Linked DNA regions of Homo sapiens: region 2 is linked to region 1. Evidence: fine-mapped expression QTL. Tissue or cell type: aorta. Region 1 holds a variant in brackets; the other region holds the start of a gene. All regions are shown on one strand. Distances are from middle to middle.

Region 1 (8,105 bases):
ACTGAAAACTTATGTCCACACCAAAACCTGCACACAAATGTTATAGCAGATTTATTCATAATTGCCAAAACTTAGAAGCAACCAAGATGTCCTTCAGTAGGTGAATGGATAAATAAACTATGGTACATCCAGACAATGGAATATTATTTAACACTAAAAATAAATTAACCTTCAAACCATGAAAAGATATGAAGAAACTTCAAATGCATATTACTAAATGAAAGATACCAATCTCAAAGGGCTATATACTGTCCTATTCCAACTATATGACATTTTGGAAAAGGCAAAACTATGACGACAGCAAAACGATCAGTGATTGTTGGGGGTTTGGGGGTGGGTGGGGCAATGAACAGGCAGAGCACAGAGGATTTGGGGGGGCAATGAAACTACCCTGCATGATAACTTGAATGGTGGATACATGTCACTACACATTTATCCAAACCCATAGAATGTACAACACCAAGAGTGAACCCTAATGTAAACTCGACTCTGAGTGATAATGATGTATCAATGTAGGTTCATCAGCAGTAACAAATGCACCACTCTGGTGGGGATGTGAATAATGGGGGAGGCTGTGCATGCGTGGGAGCAGGGAGTATACGGGAACTTCCTGTACCTTCTGCTCAATATTGCTGTGAACCTAAAACTGCTCTTAAAAATAAAGTCTTTATTTTTTTTAGAAAGAAAAGGGCTTTAGGTTTTTTTTTTCAATCAAGAGAAATAGTCTTCTTATGTTTTCATATTTACACTTCTTTTTTTCAGGAGGAAGACCTGAACATCTTTTCCCTGTCCTTTATTTCCCACACATCAGGTTGGCAGCTGCTGTGCTTTATTTTTGCCCTGTGTTAAAGTCCTCTCCCACCCCAGCACCTACCTGTTCCTCAACTAGCACCACCACATCTCTGTTCTAAATGTTGTTCTCCTGCAATAAAGGACGTTTGAATTAAACATTCCATTTTTATCCTATACTGTATTTCACCATGATCTGCACACCTGTTAGTGCATCAAGGGAAGAACCAACTGGCATTGTTTTGAAGGTGTTAGAAACGTTGGCCTCTTTATTTTAGTGTGTATCTCAGAGGTGGGACTGGCAAAGCTCTATTTCACGTCACTAAGACATCCCTAAAATGGACACAAATCCTGGTGTGTGGTGTCCGTCGGGTGAAGCCATGAGGCTATGATAAAACTATTATCATGTCTCACCTTTTTTCCCCCACTGAAAAATGAGACCAGACACAGCATGAATATTGCAGCTCATTGCCAACAGGAGAGAAGTGGACAGGGAACCACCTCTGGTTTATTGTGAAAACTTTGACATTTCCATTCACTCAAATAGCAAATGTTTATCAAGAATCATGCTGGATGCTACAGGAGTTAGAAAAACTCTAGAGACACGGCCCCTGCTCTCAAAGAGTTTATGAATCTGTACAAGTATTAGGCATGTAAAATGCACAAAGTGCCCAGGAACTCCAAGATCACTGCCTGTGCACTCAGGGAAGGCTTCCCAAAGAGGCTGGTGTTTGTGTTGGAATTAAATCTGCATAGGAGGAAATAGCCAGAGGGAGGGTGAGGAAAAGACACTAAATTGAAAGGAGGCTGGAAAATGAGGGAAGGCTTATTTGGGGAAATTGCAGTCTTATAGCAGCCCCATCCAGCCCAGCTCAGGCCATTCTTGGCCAACACAGGGAAGACTTCAGGTCCCATGCCTCAGCACCCTATCCTTTGGTCCCGCCTCCCCACATGTAGCCCACCTCTGGGAAGTTCCACAAGAGACTAAGTATGGTAAAAACTGGACTCTGCTGCCTTTTGGGTAGGTAGGAATTTTCCAGCTAGTCTGAAAAGAGCCGTAACCCTCTGTCATGAAACAAGGAACAGAGACTTCACACCTCGGGGACAGGAATCATCCGTTTCTGGCTGAGTGTCAGCAGAGCCTTTCTTGGATTCTGCCTATAACCACTGAATGTCCAGACTCCCAAGCCTCACAAAAGCCCTGTTGCTAATAATGTCTAAAGTAAGAAACATTAAGAAAAATGGAGTTGCAGAAGGATCTTTGTTCATGCCACCCACAGGTTTTCCCTGGGTGTGTTTCCCTTAGAACTAGCAACTGACGGGATATGAGTCACAGGCTGAGCCTAAAGGAGTTCTAAGATAAGAACAGAAAAAAGTGCCATAGCCCGGTCCACTTTTACTCACCGGAATTTCTAGGAACACACAGGTTATTTCAAACGCCAACCATGTGGCCGTTGTTCATGGGGCTGTTTGCCATGTGTCTGAGGCCTCTGGGTGTGGGAGTGTGTCCATCCGTCTGTCTGTCTGTCTGTGTGGAACTGTCTGTCTGTTAGGGAAGGTGTAGAGAGGAGACAGTAGCAGTACTCAGTCGAGCCTCATAGTGAGAGGCAGTGTTGGGTGAGAGGTGGAAGTCCCCTAAGCCATGGGTATTTTTATATTGGGATTTTTAAATAAGCCTCCCTAAGTTTATAATTAATAATACTTTTGTTGTTGTTTCCTTCCAAGTTAAAAGAAACGCTCCCACCCCCTACCCTCACCACACCACATGGGGTTTCCTTTACAGCAAAGCTAATGGTCTGCCAGGTGCAATCATTACAAACACTACAAGGTGTGAAGATAATTGTTTCTACTTAAGGGGAAAATGCATCTCCATTACCAGCCGATTATGACAGTCTCAGAGTTAAGGCCTCTACAATGGATGGTTTTTATCTGGCCTCTGAGAAAATGTGGTGATGAGATGTGTTCACATTCTCTGAATGTTTGGGGCTTCCCTGGTGCAATCCCAGGTATCCTAATTGCATAAGGAGCCTGGTAGTGCCCCAGTACGGGAAGGGCAGCATGGGAACCCCAGCAAGTTTGGACACCAGTGATACTAATAGCTATTATTTATTAAGTGCCTACTGTGTCCCTGACCTTTGTGTTATGCAGTTTTCATACATCTTCAAATCCTCTCAACAACTGGAGGAGTTGGGAATTGTTTCACTCATTAGACAGATGGGAAAGCTAAGACCCTGAGAAGTCAAACAAGCTGCCTAACACCCTGAAGCTCATCAGTGGTAGAGCTGAGGTTTGAACACAAATTTGGGTAACTCCACAGCCCACGGCCCTATATGCCACTCCGTGCTGCCTGCCTTTGCTCATTAAATGATTGATTAAATGGTTGATCTGTATGGTACAGAAATTCTTGAGCACACCATGGGACCATTTGCCTCGGGGTGAATGCAATGATTTGAACAGTCGTTCATCTTTCAGGCCCAGTGAGAAAAAAATGCTGCTGATAACAAACTTGCATACATTTATGTGGGCTCTTTCATGACATTTTCTGTGCTTTGAAAAGAGTTTTGGTAATTTTCTAATCCTACAGTGGCCCTCAGGGGCTTGTTTAGAGAGCCTTTGAGGAGAAGTGCCTTCCTGCTCTGTGTACCTCTTTTTCTCTTTCATAAAAATGTTAGATATTTAAGGTGTACAACATGATGTTTTGAGATACATCTACACAGTGAAATGACTATTACAGTCAAGTAAGTTAACATAATCCATTTCCTGAAATCTACTCTCTTAGTGAATTTCCAGTGTATAATACAGTATTATTAACTGGAGTCTGGATACTATACATCAGAGCTCTGGGCTTCGTCCTATGGAACTGCACCCTTTTACCCTTTGACCTACATCTTCTGATTCCCTCTACCTCCCCAACCCTGGTAACCACTGTTCTGCTCCCTGGTTTTATGTATTCAACTTCTTTAGATTTCACATATAAGTGAAATCATGCAGTATCTTGTCTTTCTGTGCCTGGTTTATTTCACTTAGCAGAACGTCCTCCACGTTTCTCCATTGTGTCCTAAATGGCAGGATTTCCTTCCTTTTTAAGGCTGAATAATATTCTGTGGTGTATATTGCCTATATTTTCTTTATCCATTCATCTGTCAATGGACACTTGCCATACCCTTGACCACAGAAAGGGGCTCCTGTCCCAGAGAAGATGCCGGCCTCCTGAGCGTACAACAGCGCTGGGGAATGCTCCAGCAGTGCAGGGAAGGGGGCCCCCAGGCAGTCCCGGGGCCACTGGAGACCCCTTCCTTGTGGGAAGAACCAGGAATTGAGTAGAGGAGAAGCAGCAC[G/C]GAGGAGGGCCTCCAAGGAGAGAAGAGCCCTTACGGCCACATCCCTGGATCTCCCAGGACCAGTTCAACAACGTGGCCAGTGCCTTTTTCTCTCTCCCTGTTCCTCATCAGCTGTCCTTCCCTTTGCTTCCTTCTGCTTTATTTCCTGGAGATGCTCCCAGAGCACCCTGGTGGTAGCAAACTTGAAAAGAGCCCCTGTTTGTGGAAATGCAAGGGGTTGTGTGACTGCATTTGCCAGCCCAGGAGAGACCCTGAGGCAGAGCAGCAGAAAGCTCCTGGGCCTCAGAGTCAGAGCTCAAAGCCTGTCTCTGCCAGTGTCCACCTGTGGGATGCTCACAGCAGCCACCTGACAGCCACCATTTACTGAGCACACCTGGGCCTGCCAGCCTCAGATCTGCCCTGGACCTTCCCTGCACTGCACCAGATCTAGACAGGCTGTCCACCGCAGACCCTGTTTCCCAGACCCCCTTGTCACCTGGCTCCCCACTGGCTTTGTCCAGAGGGAGCCTGGAGGGTGGGCAGGTGGAGAACCAGGCTACTTCTCCCTCACTGTTCCTGCCCTGGGGACATCTCCAGCGGGGTCTGAGTTTCCCCGGGCTCCAGTTCCCGCGGGATAGACCTCCATGGTTCCACCTTCCACTAGGGACCCCAGCAACGAGACCCCTTCATCCCACCAGCCCAGGAGCGGTAGTGGCTTCCTGCTCTCACTAATCTTGGGGTGTTCCTGCTGGCTTCTCCACTTTGCCATCACCTCGTTAAATTCCATCTCTTTAGATACTCAAGTCCTGGTTTTCCCTGAATAATCACAGTTTGTCAGCTCTGAACTAAGCCCTCACCAGCATTTCTCGAGATAGCCCTCAGAGACTCTTGTTGTACAGCTGAGGACCCTGAAGCTCAAAGATGCACAGGGATTGGTTTAGGGTGACTCGGCTGGTGAGTAGTTCAGCCGGAATTCAGACCTAGGCCTGTCTAGAGCATACCTGGGCTTCTACTCACTCCTCTAGTTGCTTCTGTGAGTTTCCGTTTCCCCTTCTCTGAAAGAACCAACAAGATCTACACTACAGTGTTGTTTGAAGGACTAGAGAGTGCCTGTAGTGTGCCTCCAACCCTGCTTCACACGCATCGGGACACCTCCGGCAGGGTGGCCTGCTCTGCAGGGAGGGCCATCTTGTTTTCCAAGTGGCACCCACTGCTGCCAGTGAGTAGTTTCAGTGGCCAGTGTGGAGAGGGCACCTCTTCTGGCCTGTATGGTGGGCAGTGCCTGTTCTGCACTGGCCAGGGTGTTTGGTTACCCCAAGGGAGGGAATCAAAAGTTAACTCTTTTTCGTTTAGGTTTTTTTTTTTTTGGTCAGAATTCTTACTGGTTTCTGTGAGTGTGGGTTTGAAGTTGGCACTGATAGAATCTGTGGTTTGACTGTTTCTTGAAGAATGTTTAAGCAGCAGCACTGTTTATTTCTGAGTCCTCATCCAAGAATGAGCTCCTTGTGGCATAAAAAGCACCGAACTCCCACTGAAGCCGTCTTTGTGGTGACAGAGATGGAACCGTCCTTACCTCGCAACCTAGAATGCAGTACCAAGATACTAAAGACACTAAAAACAACTTTTTCTTCCCCTAACATGATGGGATATTCGAGTCAGAACCCTAAGGCGTCCTCCTAGGGTAGAATAAGCTTCCATTTGACAGAGGAGAAAAATCAAGGCTCAAAGAGGTTAAGGGATCTGCTTAAGGTCACACAGTGTGGTGTTGGTGGCAGAACCAAGCCTCATGCCCAAGGCACCTAACTCTGGTTGCCCTGGAGGCTGTGCCCTGGCTCTGCAAGCAGAGCTAGAAGAACTGCTCCATGTTCGTCATTGGCTAAGCCTCAGCAGAGCTGTAGGGGATCAGGTTAGGGACACTGCCCTGTGATTTTAATAGACCCAAATTACTACTGTGGTCACAGAAACAGGCTTGGGATAACTATGCCTTTCAGTAAAGATTTTGTACAGAAATATGTTAATTTTATTTACTAGGTTGTCTGGCACATAATAGCATGCATTATTAATACAGTAGCTTAATACTCTCTATTAAATAGGCATACTCTTTGCATTGTAAAACGAACCTCTCTTTTACGATGTACTTCACAATGCCATGTCACAACGGCACGTGCTCAGAATATTACAGCAGGCTTCCATTCCGCCTTCCATGAAATACTAAAAAAGAGACCATCTCTAATGCAACTCAGTAGCCTGGTGATTAATCCATAAGCACATTTTTAACTGAGTTCTCCTAGGCCATTCTTCGTCTTAGGGGCTTCAGACAAAGGTGAGCTTGTGGTTCTGAAACTTTTATTCTCCCCTACTGCCCAAGTCTGTCCACTACCTCCAATGGTGAGTCACGGAGATTTCGTCTGCCACCCGCGGCCTTGTGAGCGCTACAACCACGGAACTGTGGTGGAGTTTTACTGCGATCCTGGCTACAGCCTCACCAGCGACTACAAGTACATCACCTGCCAGTATGGAGAGTGGTTTCCTTCTTATCAAGTCTACTGCATCAAATCAGGTAAGACTGAAGGCCTCACCCTTGGAGGAGATGGACCCTCCTTGGACCATCTGCACATAGTGGGTGGTGGTTATGTACCAAGCTGTATCTCTCCTCCCCCACCCAGTGTCAGGAACAGGATATCGAAACATATCATTGCGGGTCGATGGGGCTGCTGTTGGGCTCTGTGCCAGATGCTTGTAGGTCCTGTTCAGACAGTCAAGAGTATTAACTGTCTGCTGGAGGTCCTTCCATGGATGCTAGGGGCCTAGGGACCCTATTCAGAGGGTCAGGAGTATTAACCTGTCCATTCCCAGGTTAAAAAGCTGACCATCTAAACAGGGTCCCTAGACCCCTAGCATCCATGGAAAGACCTCCAGCCTCCACACTCTTTTTTCTCCCAGCCTTGTCCTTTTCCACTGGTAAGGACACAGGCCTGTGGGTGTGACCAGAATTAGATGCATTGCCCTGGACCCAAGCAACGCATAACTTTACCTTTCTCTTCCACTCAAGGACACATATCAGAATACAGATGATACTGTGGGTAACACCTGCTCTCACTTGTAAAACTATAGGCCATTTGCAAGCTTCAGGGCTTCATAGTTAAAAGCAAATGACTTAATTGCAAACCACCTTCCCCACTGGCCTCAGTGCACCTGGGTAGTGACCACAGGATAGAGACTGGGGCACCAGCACACACCCACTGTCTCCTTCCCACTCTCTCCAGCCCTTTCCAGGCTGGGGATGCTGCCCTGAGCAGTGCTGATGACTGCATGCCTTTCCCCTGGACACAAGGAAGCACTTGTTAATGCCAGGTCTCTGGAGGCGCACACATGATCCTGTGAGCCAGCCGGGGGAGAAGTGCAAAGAGAGTGTCTAAGAGGGTGGTCATGACAAGGCAGAGAGACATTTAAGAGACAGGGTGGCCTGTGCCCAAAGGATAAGTCTCTTCTGGAAAGGTCTGCTCTTGCTGCCCCTGACCTGGCAGGCAGTTGATGGCTAGAGGTGGTAGGGCATGAGAGCTGTGGAACAGGGGTCCCCTTTACCCTCTGTTTCTTGCTTTACCCAACCCCACAGCATATCCCAGAACATTCACAAAGGGCCCAGCTTCCCACTCCCCCACCCCTTGGTCCATTTCGGAGCAACTTCTCCAGGCAAGAGAGATGCCCACCTCTGTTCTCAAGAGGCAGATGCATTATTTAAGCCTGTGCCAGGCCTGCGCCTGGGACTGGAATGTGAGCATGCAGGTCTGCAACCTGGCAGAGCCCATGCTGGAGACAGGTTTTTAGTGTTGGGTGGATCCTGATGCAATTTACATGAGCTACAGGGGCACATGGTATCTCTGCCGAGCCCTGGGGGTCAGAGGCACCTTGCACGCATCTCTTGTGCCAGATGAATCCAGCAAATGAGCCCACGGGGAACCTCGGCACCTCTCATGGTCTGGGAGCCTCACGTACAGC
Region 2 (8,094 bases), 950 kb before region 1:
ATTATGCTAAGTAAAAGCCAATCATAAAAGATCAGGTATTTTATGATTTCATGTATATGAAATGTCCAGAATAAGCAAATCTATAGGCCACAAAGTAGATTAGTGGTTACCTAGGTAGAAGCAGGGGATATGAGGGACTGCTAATGAGTATAGGGTTTCTTTTGGTGATGATGAAATGTTCTAAGGTTATATGGTGGTGACAGCTGCACAACTCTGTGAATATACTAAAAAATACTGAACTGTACACTTTAAATGAATAAATCATGATAGTTGAATTATAATCTCAATAAAGCTATTGGCCAGGTGCTGTGGCTCACACCATTAATCCAGCACTTTGGGAGGCTGAGGCACAAAGACTGCCTGAGGCCCAGTGTTCAAGACCAGCCTGGGCAAACAGATTCTATTTCTACCAAAAATAAAAAAAATTAGCCAGGTGAGGTGGCACAAGCCTGTAGTCCCAGCTACTTAGGATGCTGAAGCGGGAGCATCACTTGAGCCCAAGAATTTATGATCACACCACTGCACTCCAGCCTGGGCAACACAGTGAGACTCTCTCTCAAAAAATAAAACATTAAAAAGCTGTATCATGTTAAAGTATAACAGTGAAGGAACCATTTCTTGTGATTTATTCTTTTTTTTTTTTGAGACGGAGTCTCGCTCTGTTGCCCAGGCTGGAGTGCAATGGTGAGATCTCAGCTCACTGCACCCTCTGCCTCCTGGGTTCAAGCAATTCTCCTGCCTCAGCCTTCCCAGTAGCTGGGATTACAGGCGCCCACCACCACACCCAGCTAATTTTTGTATTTTTAGTAGAGACGGGGTTTCACCATGTTGGCCAGACTGGTCTTGAACTCCTGACCTCAGGTGACCTGTCCACCTCAGCCACCCAAGGGCTGGGATTACAGCCATGAGCCACCCAGCCCAGCTCATCCTCACGAATTTCAAACAGATGCCTTGTAAATGAACTTTTAATGTGAACTCTAAATGTAAACTTAAAGTGTACAATTGTTGGTTGTTCTATCAGGCCCCTTCCCTCCCCCGCCAAAAAGTCAATACTTTCAGAAAGATCTCTTATCATTTGTGTATAATTTAAACAAATCTAAAGATTCTTTCTACAGGTTATTCCATCTCCCACCCTGAAACAGAACATGAGTTAGTATTTACACCTGCATGGAAAACATTGTACACTGTATTTTCATTGAGAAATATGTAGTCCTTCTTTTTTTTTTTTTTTTTTTTTTGAGACGGAGGCTCACTCTGTCGCCCAGGCTGGAGTGCAGTGGCACCATCTCAGCTCACTGCAAGCTCTGCCTCCCGGGTTCACGCCATTCTCCTGCCTCGGCCTCCTGAGTAGTTGGGACTACAGGTGGCTGCCGCCACGCCCGGCTAATTTTTTGTATTTTTAGTAGAGATGGGGTTTCACCGTGTTAGCCAGGATGGTCTCGATCTCCTGACCTCATGATCCGCCCACCTTAGCCTCCTAAAGTGCTGGGATTACAGGCGTGAGCCACCATGCCCGGCCAAGAAATATGTGGTCCTTTTACTTTCCCAGTGAAATGGTTCAGTGATAAGTCTGTGGGGGGAAAAAAGGCTCAGTGTGAGGTAAGTATCAATCAGCACCTTCTCACTTCCTTCATCTCTTTTTCTTGAGACAGTCTCACTCTGTTGCCCAGGCTGGAACGCGGTGGGGCAATCACGGCTCACTGCAGCCTCTACCTCCCCAGCTCAAGCAATCCTCCCACCTCAGCCTTCTGTGTAGCTGGGACCACAGGCACATGCCACCATGTCCCGCTAATTAAATTTTTTTTTTTTTGGTAGAGATGGGGTTTTGCCATGTTGCCCAGGTTGGCCTCGAACTCCTGAGTTCAAGTGTTCCTCTCGCCTCAGCCTTCTGAGTAGCGGGACAGGCATGCACGCCTAGCTAATTTTTTAATTTCTCGTGCAGATGGGGCTGTTCTGAACTGGCCTCAAGCGATCTTCTTGCCTCAGCTTCTCAAAGTGCTCGGATTACAGGCAAAAAAAAGCCACCACACCCGTCCTGATTTTCAGAATATTAAGTAGCTCAGTTTCAGTATTCCAGAGTTGGTTTTTACACAGGTAGGACGCTAGATTATTCCTATGTAACATGTAGATAAGGCATTGATAAAATATATCATATGTGGCCTGGCAGGGTGGCTCACGCCTGTAATCCCAGGACTTTGGGAGGCCATGGCAGGCGCATCATCTGAGACCAGCCTGGCCAATGTGGCAAAACCCTGTCTCTACTAAAAATAAAAATAGAAAAACTTAGCCAGGTATGGTGGCGGGCGTCTGTAATCCCAGGTACTCGGGAGACTGGGGCAGGCAGAACTGCTTGAACCCAGGAGGGAGAGGTTGCAGTGAGCCGAGACTGGGCCACTGCACTCCAGCCTGGGTGACAGAGTGCGGCTCCGTCTCAAAAAAGTATCATGCTATCTCATATCAAGTATGTGTAAGTGATGTGCCAAACAAATTGCTACTGGCAGGCTGAGGTATGCGGACCACTGGAGCCCAGGCTGCAGTGATCATCATGCCTGTGAACAACCACCGCACTCCAGCTTGGGCAACAAAGCAAGACCCTTTCTCTAATGGAGTGTAGGGGAGGAGGAAGAAGAGGAGGAAGGGAATTCAAGAACCCAAAGTTACCGGGTGCAGTGGCTTACGCCTTTAAAATCCCAGCACTTTGGGAGGCCAAAGCGGACAGATTGCTTGAGCCCAGGAGTTCAAGACCAGCCTGGGCAACACGGAGAAACCCATCTCTACAAAAAATAGAAAAATCAACCAGGCATGGTGGTGTGCGCTTGTGGTCCCAGCTACTTGCTTTTTCTTTTCACTGGGCAAATGAATGTTGAGAAGAAAAACTAAGGAAATACTATATATAAGGAATAATTGCTCATGTTCAACTCACCGTTTCCTCAATTTAAAAAAAGTGTGTGTGTGTGTGTGTGTGTGTGTGTGTGTGTGTAAACGGGGGGCTCTCACTATGTTACTCAGGATGGTCTCAAACTTCTGGGCTGAAGCGATCCTCCCGCCTCAGCCTCCCGAAGTGCTAGGATTACAGGCCTGAGCTACCGTGACCGGTCCCCGTTTCCTCAACAGAGGTTAAAAAGCTCGTGCTCTGGCCGGGCACGGTGGTTCACGCCTGTAATCCCAAAACTTCGGGAGGCCAAGGCGGGCGGATCACCTGAGGTCAGGAGTTCGAGATAAGCCTGGCCAACATGGTGAAACCCCGTCTCTAACTAAAAAAGATACAAACATTAGCCAGGCGTAGTGGTGGGAACCTGTAATCCCAGCTACTCGGGAGGCTGAGACAGAAGAATCGCTTGAACCCAGGAGGCAGAGGTTGCAGCGAGTGGAGATCGCGCCACTGCACTCCAGCATGAGCAACAGAGTGAGACTCAGTCTCAAAAAACAAACAAACAAACAAACAAAAAACAAACACGTGCAGTCTCAAAAAACAAACAAACAAAAAACAAACACGTGCTCTGGAAGAGGCAACCGAATGCGCATTAGAATCCCCCTAGCATTTAGTCACGCGTTCTTATTTCATTTTTTAAAACAGCGATAATACCAACCAAGTAGAATTACCAAGAGGATGAAATTGGGTAATGTTTGTAAAGCATTCCACACAATCCCTAGCATATTAGGAGTAGCCTGGGAGAGATGAGCATTCTCTATGTAACACAGAAGGCCCGAATCCTCTGGAGAGTTAAGGCCTCTCAATTAGCTGTCAGGGGACCAGCAGGCCACGCCACATATTTTCCTTATTTGGCAAGTCTTCCATTTTCAGTCTTTTCATCCACAAAACCGAGATGGATGAAAAATGCCTACGAATCCGCCGTTCTTACGTCCCAGGCTTGTCGTGAGGATCAATGGGACAAGCGGCGTGAACCGACCAGGGCCCATCAAGTCCGAGAAGCCCCGGGGGGCATATGGAGGGACGCCGGCCCCCTTAACGGGCCCAAGGCCGGGACTGCGGCCGCCCCCGCCAGTACTGCCCGCCGGCGCCCGACACCCTGAGCAGGGCTCGCTGGTAGGCCCAAGGATGCCCAGGACCACACCCTGCCTAGCACTCAGGCAGCCCCAAGGCCGGCACCCGCTCACCTCGGCCCGCTCCGGAGGAGAGGGAGTGGTGAGAGGAAAGGGCGCCCACCTGAGGGCACAGGAATCTTCTAGCGAAAAGATCTACTCAAGGCTGGCACAGCCGGGGACACCCTTCGCCCCAACCGGCCGGCGTGGGCCTGGCGGGGACTCCCGCGCTCGGGGACGCGCCTGCGCCTCTTCGCGGAAGGGTCGGAGCTGCGCGGCTCCGAGGACCCGTCCCTCCCCCCGCTCCTCGCCCAGCCTCTCCCGCGCTGACCCGCGGGCTGGCGGCCCGAGCGGCGACGGGACGCGACGGGGAGCAGGCTGCTAACGGGCCTCCGGCGCCCACGACCGCGCAGGGCCCGCGAGGGGAGAGCGCGCCCCGGCGCCGGGAGGCCACGCACGCACATAACGGGGCGCCCGCTGGCCCTCACCCAGGATCTCCCGGCGCCGGTCGGCGTGCGGCTGGTCGGTGTAGACCCACTCGAAGTCTTCCCGCGAGACGCGGCTCCCCATGGCGACAGCGGTGGCTTGCAGACTAGCTGTCGGCTCTCGCTCCCAGCCGGCTGCTCAGAGGTGGCGGCGGCGGCGGCGGCTCCCCGGCTGGTGTGGTGTCGGCCGGCTGTGGCGGAGCGCGGAGGAGACGGAGGCGTGGGCGGAGTCCCGAGGCCCCGCCCCCCCCGGCCCGCCCGCCTGCCTCTCTGGGTGGAGGGCGCGTGGCGCTCCCAGGCCCCCGTGCGGGGCCGGCTCTCAGCGATTCTGGGACGCGGGGTTCTGAGCTTCGGTGACTCGGCCACCATCCAGGATGCCGCGTTCTTGCGAGTGCCCGCCCCTGCGGCCTGCTGCGCCGGAGCCCGGAGAAGATGAAAAAGGAAGGAATGGTCTCAAGTGAGATAAACCTGCCGCCCTAACGCCTCCGCGAGGGGAGCACCGGGCACGGCTACGGTCACACCGAGTCTGGAGGCCCCGGAGCCCTTCTTAAATGGCAGCTGGCCTAAGTTTTGTTTAATTTTTAAAAAGCAAATTAGCCATTGAGTCATATTTCGCTGCCTTCTGGAAATAATACCTCAGGGAAAAAATGCAGAGTGCGTGACAATTAAAAGCTAATCAAGTAAAAAGAAAACACCATTATTAAGAGGGGGTGATGATGTGGGATTTGTTGTTGTGCTTGAATTATTCTAGTGTGACCACTTCTGTTAAGAGATGATTGCTCAACCTTGCATCTACCTGTCGCAGAAGTAATCAACCACAACCTCTTCCTGAAAGAAAGGTTTTGAAACGAAACTAATTTTGTTTCAACATTAGTTACCACGTCTACATCAAAGAGCAACTTAAAGATTACAAAAAGAAGATAACCAAAGCAGGTGTGCCTCCTAGTCAAAGAACATGCTGTGCACGCGCACACGGCACACACACACACACAAATCTGATCGAGCCCCTAGATCTGACTGTTAATTTATAGAAAATAGAAAGGACATTTGGCCGGGTGCGGTGGCTCACGTCTGTAATCCTTGCACTCTGTGAGGCAGAGGCGGGTCCATCACCTGAGGTCGGGAGTTCGAGACCAGCCTGATCAGGATGGTGAAACCCCCGTCTCTACTAAAAATATAAAAAAATTAGCTGGGCGTAGTGGCAGGCGCCTGTAATCCCAGCTACTCAGGAGGCTGAGGCAGGGGAATCGCTCGAACTGGGAGGCAGAGGTTGCAGTGAGCTGAGACGGAGCCACTGCACTCCAGCCTGGGGGACAGACGGAGACTCCCTCTCAAGAAAAAAAAAAGAAAATAGAAAGGACAGAGGAATGTGTTAAACTAGGCCGTGGGGATGAAACTAGCAAGATCCAACTCTGGGAGACTATATGGGACAATGTCTGGGTTCTCTAATAAATGAAACTCAAGGCAAAAAAAGAGAAACCTGTAGATTAAAAGGAGTTTAAAAGACATACCAACCAATTGCAACGTGTTGACCTCATTTAGATTCTGATTGAAATAGTTTAAAAACATTGACATGAAATAATTGAACTCAGATATCAATTGGATATGTGATGATATTAAGGAATTATGAATTTCTTAAGTGTGATAATAGTATTATGGTTATAGTGGGTTTTGTTTTTTTTGAGACAGAGTCCTGCTCTGTTGCCCAGGCTGGAGTGCAGTGGTGGCCTCATGTCTCACTTCAGTCTTGACCTGAGCTTAAGCCATCCTCCCACCCCAGTCTCCCGAGGAGCTGGGATCACAGGCGTGCACCACCATGCTTGGCTACTTTTTTGAATTTTTGATAGAGATGGGGCCTCACCTTGTTGCCCAGGCTGGTCTCAAACGCTTGGGCTCAAGTGATCTCAAAGTATTGGGATCACAGGCATGAGCTACTACATCCGACCCCAGGAGCATTATTAATAAGTCCCTAAGACCCTCTCAGTACATTCACTTCTGAAATAGAGAGGGCCAGCACGGCTGAGACATCTAGCAGAGAAGGCTGTGAGAGCAGAGGGGAGACAGAACAGTGACACCTGGAGTGGAGGCCTGAAGGCTGATCAGAGCCCAGCGAGGGTCATGTCTGCAGGGCATGCTAGCAAATGCGTGGCTGGGTCAGCCTCCAGAGGGTCCCAGTCTCGAAAAAGGAGTGGGATTTGATGATGGATAGATACACAGGTCTGATCATGCAGGAGCTTTTTAGTTGTTAATGAAATGGTGGAGGAAAAAGAAGGTGGGGAGTGTCACCTGGAAAAGGACAGCTTTGTATTTGCCAAGTTTCATCTGGATTGGCAGATGGCACATGAAGCTGATAATTGGACTCAACTCAGGAGGAAGTTTTCAGGTGCTGACAAGTAAATGTATCCCTGCAGTTCAGAACGCAGTTGCTATCACAGGCATGTGTGAACTGGCACACCAGTCCAAAAGGTGTGCGGAGGCTTACGTCTGTAGTCTGAGCACTTTGGGAGGCCGAGGTAGGGGGATCGCTTGAGGGCAGGGGTTCGGGACAAGCCTGGGCAACATGGCAAAAACCCACCTCTATAAAAAATACAAAAATTATGCCGGGTATGGTGGCTCATGCCTGTAATCCCAGCACTTTGGGAGGCCAAGGCGGTCTCCAAGGTCAGGAGATCCAGACCATCCTGGCTAACACGGTGAAACCCCATCTCTACTAAAAATACAAAAAAAATTAGCCAGGCATGGTGGGGGGGGCGCCTGTAGCCCCAGCTACTTGGGGGGCTGAGGAAGGAGAATGGCATGAAACCGGGAGGCGGAGCTTGCAGTGAGCCGAGATCGCACCACTGCACTCCAGACTGGGCGACAGAGCAAGACTCCGTCTCAAAAAAAAAAAAAAAAAATTTAACTGGGCGTGGTGGCCCATGTTTGTGGTCCCACCTATTGCTGAGGCTGAGGTGGGAAGATTGCTTGAGCCCAGGAGGTCGAGGCTTCAATGAGCTGAGAAATGAGCTGAGATTGTGGCACTGCACTCTAGCCTGTGTGACAGAGTGAGGCTTTGTCTCAAAAACATTAAAAAATAAAAGAAAGAAAGAAAAATGCAGAGTTTGAAAAAAAATGTGAATCTGGATATACCATTTTTTTTTTCTGAGATGGAGTTGCGCTCTGTTGCCCAGGCTGGAGTGCAGTGTCAAGATCTTGGCTCACTGCAACCTCTGCCTCCTGGGTTCAAGCGATTCTCCTGCCTCACCCTCCCGAGTAGCTGGGATTACAGGTGTGTGCCACCACGTCCAGCAACTTTTTGTATTTTTACTAGAGACGGGGTTTCACCATGTTGGCCAGGCTGGTCTTGAACTCCTGACCTTAAGTGATCTGCCCTTCTTGGCTTCCCAAAGTGCTGGGATTACAGGCATGAGCACCACACCTGGCTTGGACATTCTTTTTTTTTAAAAAAAGTTACAATTCATTTAATAGCAACTGGTAATCATGAAATTTTCTTATTTTGTTTAAACCCTCTTTAAACAAAAGTCTGCAAATTAGCACTGATCATTTGCAAAAGTCATTACATATA

What was found. PIP is the estimated chance that this variant, and not a neighbour inherited with it, causes the effect.
Region 2: it holds the start of DEGS1, and the variant in region 1 is fine-mapped to the expression of DEGS1 in aorta (GTEx, PIP above 0.99).

What each region holds. Positions count from the first base shown.
Region 1 is chr1:223,227,758-223,235,862 of GRCh38, reverse strand. SUSD4 (sushi domain containing 4) reads left to right here. Exons shown (of 9, transcript NM_017982.4): 6 at 6,475-6,666. Among named protein-coding and RNA genes, the nearest start is that of TLR5, 89 kb to the right of the region's middle. The variant G/C (reference allele first, on the strand shown) is at 4,128.
Region 2 is chr1:224,179,857-224,187,950 of GRCh38, reverse strand. DEGS1 (delta 4-desaturase, sphingolipid 1) reads right to left here and starts at 4,711. Exons shown (of 3, transcript NM_003676.4): 1 at 4,533-4,711. The coding sequence starts at 4,614. RefSeq lists enhancers at 1,238-1,787, 2,339-2,398, 3,872-4,701, 5,036-5,125, 4,702-5,532 and 1 more and silencers at 2,370-2,664, 3,966-4,045, 4,206-4,585, 4,686-4,885.